Homo sapiens: one gene and its partner. The protein of the gene in region 1 interacts with the protein of each later gene in a biochemical or structural test. Each region holds a gene or a part of one and is shown on either strand. Other genes may lie near its edges.

The links. Proteins that work in one complex are often made in the same cells at the same time.
Region 2: the proteins of FOSL1 (region 1) and USF1 form a complex in vitro, tested with the Homo sapiens proteins (one study listed by BioGRID).

Annotation. Positions count from the first base shown.
Region 1 is NC_000011.10:65,898,486-65,902,234, forward strand, and holds the start of FOSL1 (fos-related antigen 1), read right to left. Parts: upstream 1,904-3,749; 5' UTR 1,855-1,903; coding exon 1,756-1,854; intron 1-1,755.
Region 2 is NC_000001.11:161,039,370-161,043,118, forward strand, and holds part of USF1 (upstream stimulatory factor 1), read right to left. Parts: intron 3,514-3,749; coding exon 3,464-3,513; intron 3,304-3,463; exon of another isoform or gene 3,302-3,303; coding exon 3,186-3,301; intron 2,849-3,185; coding exon 2,747-2,848; intron 2,478-2,746; coding exon 2,282-2,477; intron 2,043-2,281; coding exon 1,955-2,042; intron 1,504-1,954; coding exon 1,445-1,503; intron 1,302-1,444; coding exon 1,207-1,301; intron 962-1,206; coding exon 833-961; intron 641-832; coding exon 551-640; 3' UTR 1-550.

The sequences.
Region 1 (3,749 bases):
GCTGTCCCAATTCTAATCTCAGCTCTCAGCTACTTACTGGCTGTGTGACCATGGGCAAGTTATTTAACCTCCATGTGCCTCAGTTTCCTCATTTTTAATATTGTTACAGGTGAGGATTACAGGATTTCACTGATGTTAAGAAGTACCCTTTAATAGCTCTGAAATCATAGTTTAATTGGCAATTTAAAAAATTTTAGTGGACTAGGCATGGTGGCTCATACCCAGCACTTTGGGAGGCTGAGGTAGAAGGATCACTTGAGCTCAGGAGTTTGAGGTCACACCGGGCAACACAGTGAGACTTCATTTCTACAAAAAAATTAAAAAATTAGTTGGGTGTGGTGGTGCGTGCCTGTGGCCAGGTCGCTTCCCAGCTAGGATCTCAGTAGGATTGCTTGAGCCCAGGAGGCTGAGGCTGCAGTGAGCTGTGATTGCACCACTGCTCTATAGTCTGGGCAACAGAGGGAGACCCTGTCTCAGAAAAAAAAAAAAAAAGAAAAGAAAGAGAAGGAAAGAAAATTAGTGGCATAAAGTTATAGTGGGTTTTTTTTTCAATCGATGAGGTCTTCGATTCCGTGAAATATGGTAAATGATGTAGCAAGCGCCCAGCACAACGTCCCTGTTCCCATTCTATCAGCCAGCTATCTGAGGAGTGGGTTGGGATGGGGCTCAGTGTTCTGGGAGAAGTGGGTTCTAGCTCTGCCGCTGGGCCCTGGGTGTGGGCGCCCAATCGTCCGGGAAGCGCCCACAAGCCCAGGCAAGTCCCGACAGCGGTAGCCCGAGCCCAAGCGCTGCGGGCCCGGCGTCCCAGTGACCCCAGTTCCGGGTCCGAGGCACCGCCGGCGGCATCTCCCACTCCCGGGCCCGGGCCGCTCCAGGCCAGGAAGGGAGGGACGCCCCGGGTGACTCAGCCGCCGTGACTCGGCCGCCGTGACTCGGCGGAACGGACGCCCCTCCTTCCCTCCCCTGTCGACACGTGCTCGCAGCCCCTCGACAGGAAATGGGCACCTGCAGCCTCCCGGGTGCCCCCCGGCGGGCAGCGGGCGCCGTTAGGGGCTGAGAGTGGGGTCGCGAGAGTCGCCCGCAGCCTGACCCCGCGCACGTCCCGGAACCTCGAGGTCTCTATTCGCCGCATTCGGCAAAGGGATCGAGGGCCGGTCTCCGGGGACCTGGCAGGTTCCACTGCCCGGACCCCCCTGGACTCCCCAGGCCGAGAAACGATAGGGACTTGGCGACGGAGGGGCGAAGGACAGACAGACGGACGGACACGCGGAGGGTCGCAGACCGGGCCGGGACTCCCACCCTGGCCCAGCTGCTCTCCCGACGGATCCCGCCTCCCTCCCGTGTGGGGACCCTCACCCCAGCCCAGACTCCAGATCCCAGGAATTCAGCCCGAAGCGGAGAGACCCTCCTAGCCTTCGAGGCGACCACCCTAGGCGCCCACGCCCCTTCTGAAGCAGGGTGGACGCAGAAGTCAGAGGTGGGCAGGAGGAGAGAAAGCGGGCACGGAGACGGAGGGACGGACGCGGACGGCGAGGGAGAAGGGGGCGGCTGGGAGAAGGGGAGTTCGCGGGTCTCTGCTGCCCGCTGCGCGGTGGGGGCAACTGGCCCCGGACGGCGAGGGGCAGGATCCTCGCCCCAGCCCCCAGCCCGGCCCCGACTCCGGTTCCCCGCTCCAGTCCCGGAGCGTGCGGGAGTTGACCCCGGCCTCCCACGCGCGGTCCTCCCGTGGGACCACCGGCGTCGGGCCCCACTCACCTGCTGGGCTGCCTGCGCTGCGGCCGGGGGCTGCGCGGGGCCGCCGTACCCGCCGCCGTTCCCGGAGCTCGGGCCGGGTTCCCCGAAGTCTCGGAACATGCCCGGGGCTGGCGGCTCTGCGGGGTACACGGCTGCTGGGTTCTGACTCACCCGCGCCGTGCGGAGTCTTTTCTTTTTATGAATGAAAAGTTCTCGGGCTGAACCACTGCGACCGCGGGGGGTGGGGGCGTTGCAGCGGCGCGGTCACCTCCAGGCTCCACCCCCGAGACGCGCCGCCTTGGCCCGTCGGTCCCGAACTTGGCGACGCCTCCCCAAGTCCGGCTGCAGCCTTTTCACCGGGATGGGCCCGGCTCGGCGTTCCCCGGAGGCTGCGGGCCCGCCCCCCTGACGTAGCTGCCCATACATGGTGTAACTTCCTCGCCGCGCCCAGGTGGAGCCCCGGGTTCCCCTGCGGACTGACGCACCTGCCAGAGCCCGCGCCCCGCCCCAGCCCTCTCGAGGCCTGGGCTAACCTCCGTTTCTGCTCCCACAAAATAGCACGAAAGAATCACATCTCTAGGAGCCACGCCAACCGCCACCCAAAGCTTCGTGGAGTGAGGTCTTTCCACTGGCCTTGTTTTAAGGCTTCGAGTATATGAAAAGTGAATAAATGACAAACCAGGGTTACAAAAATGGTGGCATATTTTATTTTACTTTATATTTTTGAGACCGGGTCTCTGTCACCCAGGCTGGAGTGCAGTGGCTCGATCTCGGCGCACTGCAGGCTCAACTTCCTGAGCTAAAGGGATTCTCCTGCCTCAGCGCCCCCTCCAAGTAAGTGGGACTACAGGCGCGCGTCACCACACCCAGGTAATTTTTGTGTTTTTTGTAGGGATTGGGTCTCGCCGTATTGCCCAGGCTGGGTGGTATATTTTAAATGTTTGCGATAAGGTAATGCTTTGAACTAACCCCACATAAAATGCAATATAATAGTATTACTCAGGATAATTTCAGGAGCTATAACGAGTTTTAATTCAGGGCCACTACAGGTGTCCTGAGGTCTGATAAACGCCATCTTCATTACGGTCAGTGCCTTTCGGAGGCTTGTGGCCACCAGACTTGTTTGGAGAGTATGTCAAAGGTGAGTGAATGTGAGGCAGGTATCATCCTCATCTCTGTTTTACAGATGGGGAAACTGAGGCTGGGAGATGCTGAAATGAATTGCTTGAAGTCGCTAAGTGAGTAGCTGGCACAGGTTGCCAAGTCACAGCCGTGGGCACTCCAAGCCCAGGCTCAGCCAAGATTTTCAAAGCCCTTACACCTTCACAGACACCTTGTCGCACATCCAGAATGTTAGTGCTGGGCACCATCCCAAAGCTTCTCTCTGATTACTTCCATCATAGATGAGGAAACTGAGGCCCAGATGGAGTACTGAGCTGTCAGTTGTCACACGACTACAGAAAGAGGGCTGGGGCCAGGTGTGGTGGCTCATGCTTGTAATCCTAGCACTTTGGAAGGCCAAGGCAGAAAGAACCATTTGAGACCCCATCTCTACAAAAAATTATAAAATTTTCTGGACATGGTGGTACGCCTGCCTTGTGGTCCCAGCTGTTCTGGAGGCTGAGGCGGGAGGATGGCTTAAGCCAGGGAGGTTGAGGCTGCGGTGAGCTGTGACTGCGCCACTGCAGTCCAGCCTGGGGGACAGAGCAAGACTCAAAGTAAATAGATCAAGAGAGGGCTGGGCTCTCCTGCTTCTCCATCGGTCCTTCCATTTCATCAGCTCTAGCTTTGCCCTCTGGGCTACTTTCCTTGGGAACACAGGCCAGAAGCCTGTGGGTGCACTCAGGACTTAGAGCCAGGAAGTCCAGATTGCCCCTGGGGTTCTAGTCCCAGAGCTACCATTTTCTGTCTGTGTGACACTGGGCAGGTCACCTTCCTTCAACTGGGCCTCCCTGCTGATCTCACAGAGCTGTTGTGGGATCAAGTGAGATCACAGATGTGAAAATGCTTTGTAA
Region 2 (3,749 bases), on another chromosome or scaffold:
CTGGCTCCAGAGATGTCTGCATAGGCCTCAGCTTCTCACTGGCCAATCTCCTCTTCATGGGCACCAGCCACTGCTAAACATCCTTCCCTCACTTCTTGTGTAAGCTTGCTCCCCTGAGCCACAGGTTGCACATCTAAACCTCAGCTCCAGGGAAAGGAAGAACCAATGGAAGTGCCAGAGTCCTGGGGCAAGCCAGAGCATCACCTGTCAGCAAACCTCTGCTGGGCACTCTAAGCAAGCACAGGACAAGCCCCAGAGTTTAGTGTGTCCAGTATCCAGCATGGAGACAGCACATGCATTGTGCGAGAGGAGCACAAGGGCCCAGGGGCTGCATGGTGGGGGTGGGCAAGGCTGTCAGTGCACGTCCACATTGTGTGTTTCACACCACTGCAGGCCGCCATATCACAGGGCCTCAGTTCAAGGACACACCTTCTGAACTTCCCCCTGTCCCATGCCAGAAGTGGGGCAGTGAAGGAAAGGGGCACGGGATTAGGCTGTTGCTCCTGGGCTATCTGCAGTTCTTGGGCCCAAAGCCCCTGAATCCCCATAGTTAGTTGCTGTCATTCTTGATGACGACCTCTAATCCGTGGTGCCGCAACTGAGCTCGAAGCAGCAGATTCTTGTTTTTAAGATCTTCCACCTGACATGGGAAGGAGGCAGTAAAGGGAATGGGTAGTAAAGCTGGCACTTCCAAGCCCCTGAATGTATTCAGACATCCACTGGTGAGGGGGAAAAGATGAAGCCTTCTCCATGGAGAACAAAGTAGAGGGTGTCAAACTGGGTCAGTGGCTAGCAGAACTGAGAAGGGCTGCACTGGGGGTAGGAGTCTGACCTGTTGTCGAAGCACGTCATTGTCCAGCTGCAGTTGGTCAAGTCCCTGCAGTTCTTCAGACAAGCGGTGGTTACTCTGCCGAAGCTCCTGGATATAATCACAAGCTTTGGATAGAATCCCACCTTTACTCTGCAAGATAAGGTCAACAAAATGAGAACTAGGATTTCAGATACCCAGCTTGCTTTCCAAAAGTAGGTTCACACTTTGGACCTCATTTTCATCTAAGGAAGGTGGTATAATATCTCCCAGGGATACAGGAACCTCAGGGAGAGATAAGACTACTGTCATGTGTGCCCCTCTCTCTACCATTTCTGGAAACAATACCAGGAGGCAGAATTCAGGCATCCTGCCCACTACCAGGGTCTTTCCATGACCTGGCCAGACTTGGTGCTCTCCATAGAGCAGTCTGGGATTATCTTGGAGAGCTGCACGATCCAGTTGTTGATCTTGTCTCGGCGGCGACGCTCCACTGTGGGGCAAAGTGGAGGACAAGGTGACTCAGTGAAAACTCGCCACAAGTCCCAGGGTAAAATTACCTAATCCCTCCTCCCCTCAGACATCACTGCTGAGATCACACCAGACAGCTTCTAGCTCCACCCAGATCATACCTACCTTCATTATGCTGAGCCCTGCGTTTCTCATCCCGAGTCGTCCGGGGAGCTTCTGACTTCCTGACAACAGAGCCCAGGGTGGCCAGAGTAAGAAGACAAAATACATGATTGAAGTTTGGGGTTAAGGAATTATACAAGATTTAGCAGGTATTAGGACCACTTATGGTAGCTAGGTGTGGTGTCTCACACCTGTAATCCCAGCACTTTGGGAGGCCGAGGCAGGCGGATCACTTGAGGTCAGGAGTTCGAGACCAGCCTGGCCAACATGGTGAAACCCTGTCTCTACTAAAGATACAAAAATTAGCCAGGGGTGGTGGTACATGTCTGTAGTTCCAGCTACTCAGGAGGCTGAGGCATGAGAAACGCTTGAACCCTGGAAGCAGAGGTTGCAGTGAGCTGAGATCATGCCACTGCACTCCAGCCTGGGTGACAGAGCAAGACTCTGTCTCAAAAAAAAAAAAAAAAAAAAAAAACCACTTACGGAATCTGAGAAGAAACAAGGGTCACTCACGGGGAATAAGGGTGAGTCCTAGGGGCAATTGAGCGCTGGCTTCCTCCCTGCAGTACTTCTTGTGGTGACATCATCACAAAGAATTGACCTGTGAAGATGCAGGGTAGGTTCTGTCAGGACATGGGTAGGAACCTCACCAAGCCCTGAGGTGAAGACCCTGGTCCCCTCCTCTAAAAAGAACATGCTAATAGAAGAGCAGCCCCAGACTCACTGCCTGTCCAGGTCTTAATGATCACTAAGAGTCATGAGTGAAGGCTCACTGCCTACCAGTCATGTCCCACAGCCTATTCTAGCCCTTTCAGCCAGCATCCTCATGCAATATCTCACCAGTGCCAGGAGGGGTCGCCTGCCCCAGCAGTGCCTCTGAGCCCTGGGTAGTAACAACAGCAGCTGTACTCCCCGATGTGGTACCCCCTGCCCCATCTCCCACTGCCGTGCTGGGGAAGTAAGTATAGTGCGTCTCAGCAGCTGTCCCCTCCGTGTCAACTGCATCATCACTGGTGAAAGCACCCTGGATCACCGCCTGGGAAGGGGAGCAAGAAAACTGATTCTGGTAACAGTCAAAAACTTCTTCCCACTACACCACTCTGCAGCTTCTATCCGTTGGGGTGGTAGGTAGGGTGGAGAGAGAGAGAGAGAGAGAGAGAAACATCCAGAAAAGGAGAGCCTAGTGCTTTGGGACAAGGCAGCCTTAGATGCCTCACTGTTCCTAGCTTCACCCCCATCCTACTGATTCCCTTCTTCATCTTACTTCTCAGAACTCTAGTGACCTCCCCAGCCCATACCCTGTACCTGGGTCATGGATTGAGTGGCAGGGTAGCCACTGATGGCGCCAGTTCCCTCAGTTTGGCCATCCAGCTGCCCCTCAGACACCTGGATCACCCTGTACATCACCTAGAAGTGTAGAGGAAGGCAGAGGGAGTGAAGAGAGAAGAAAAGATTAAGTGTTGGGAATCCTAGGGCCCCTCATAAAGCTTCCCTTGGATAGGGCCCCAAAACAAAGTCCTTCAGAGACATGGATTCAGCCATTCTCCCTTCTTTCCCCACACAGAGGTTTCAGCATACATCTAACCTCACACCAGTCTCTACTCCAGTATTAGCACCTCCCTCCCCTGCAACAGTCCACTCTTTCAACTCATCCTCCAAGCCAGGTCTCCCCAAGACATGTTCAATTACCTCCCTCAATCCCAACCCCAGATAACACCTGCAGCCACCTGGCCCCCTCCCTTACCTGGCCCCCATTCTCAGTTCGGAAGACGTACTTGACGTTGGGGTCAGGGAAGGTGGCAGCTGACTGGATGCTGGCAATAGCCACACTGGTTGGGTCTTCCCCAGTAGCCACTGCACCTGAATTAAAAGAACAAAGGAAAAGTCTGTGAGTTAACTGCCTTTCTACCCCCGTTCCATTTGCATGTCACGGAAGGAGGAGGATGCACAGGAGATGGTCTGGTGGGGAAGGAAGGGAGGCCATGATGGGTTCTTAGTCTTGGTTCTGTTTCTAGCACTCACCTTCCTGAATCTGCACTGTCCCCTCTTCCGTTTCAGCTGTTTTCTGCTGCCTGTTTGTGGTGAAAGGACAAAAGGAAGAGTATGAGAAGAAGTCAATGAGAAGCTCACTGGCCCAGTAACATATGGCTGCAAACTCATTGGCATTCCCAACAGAAGCTGGGTTAGGTTAGAATAACAACTAGTGTTTACTGTTTACTATGTACATAAGCACTAAGCTAAGTACATTACATGTAATCTTATTTAGTACTAAAAACAGCACCACGAGATAGATAGCACTACTTCCATT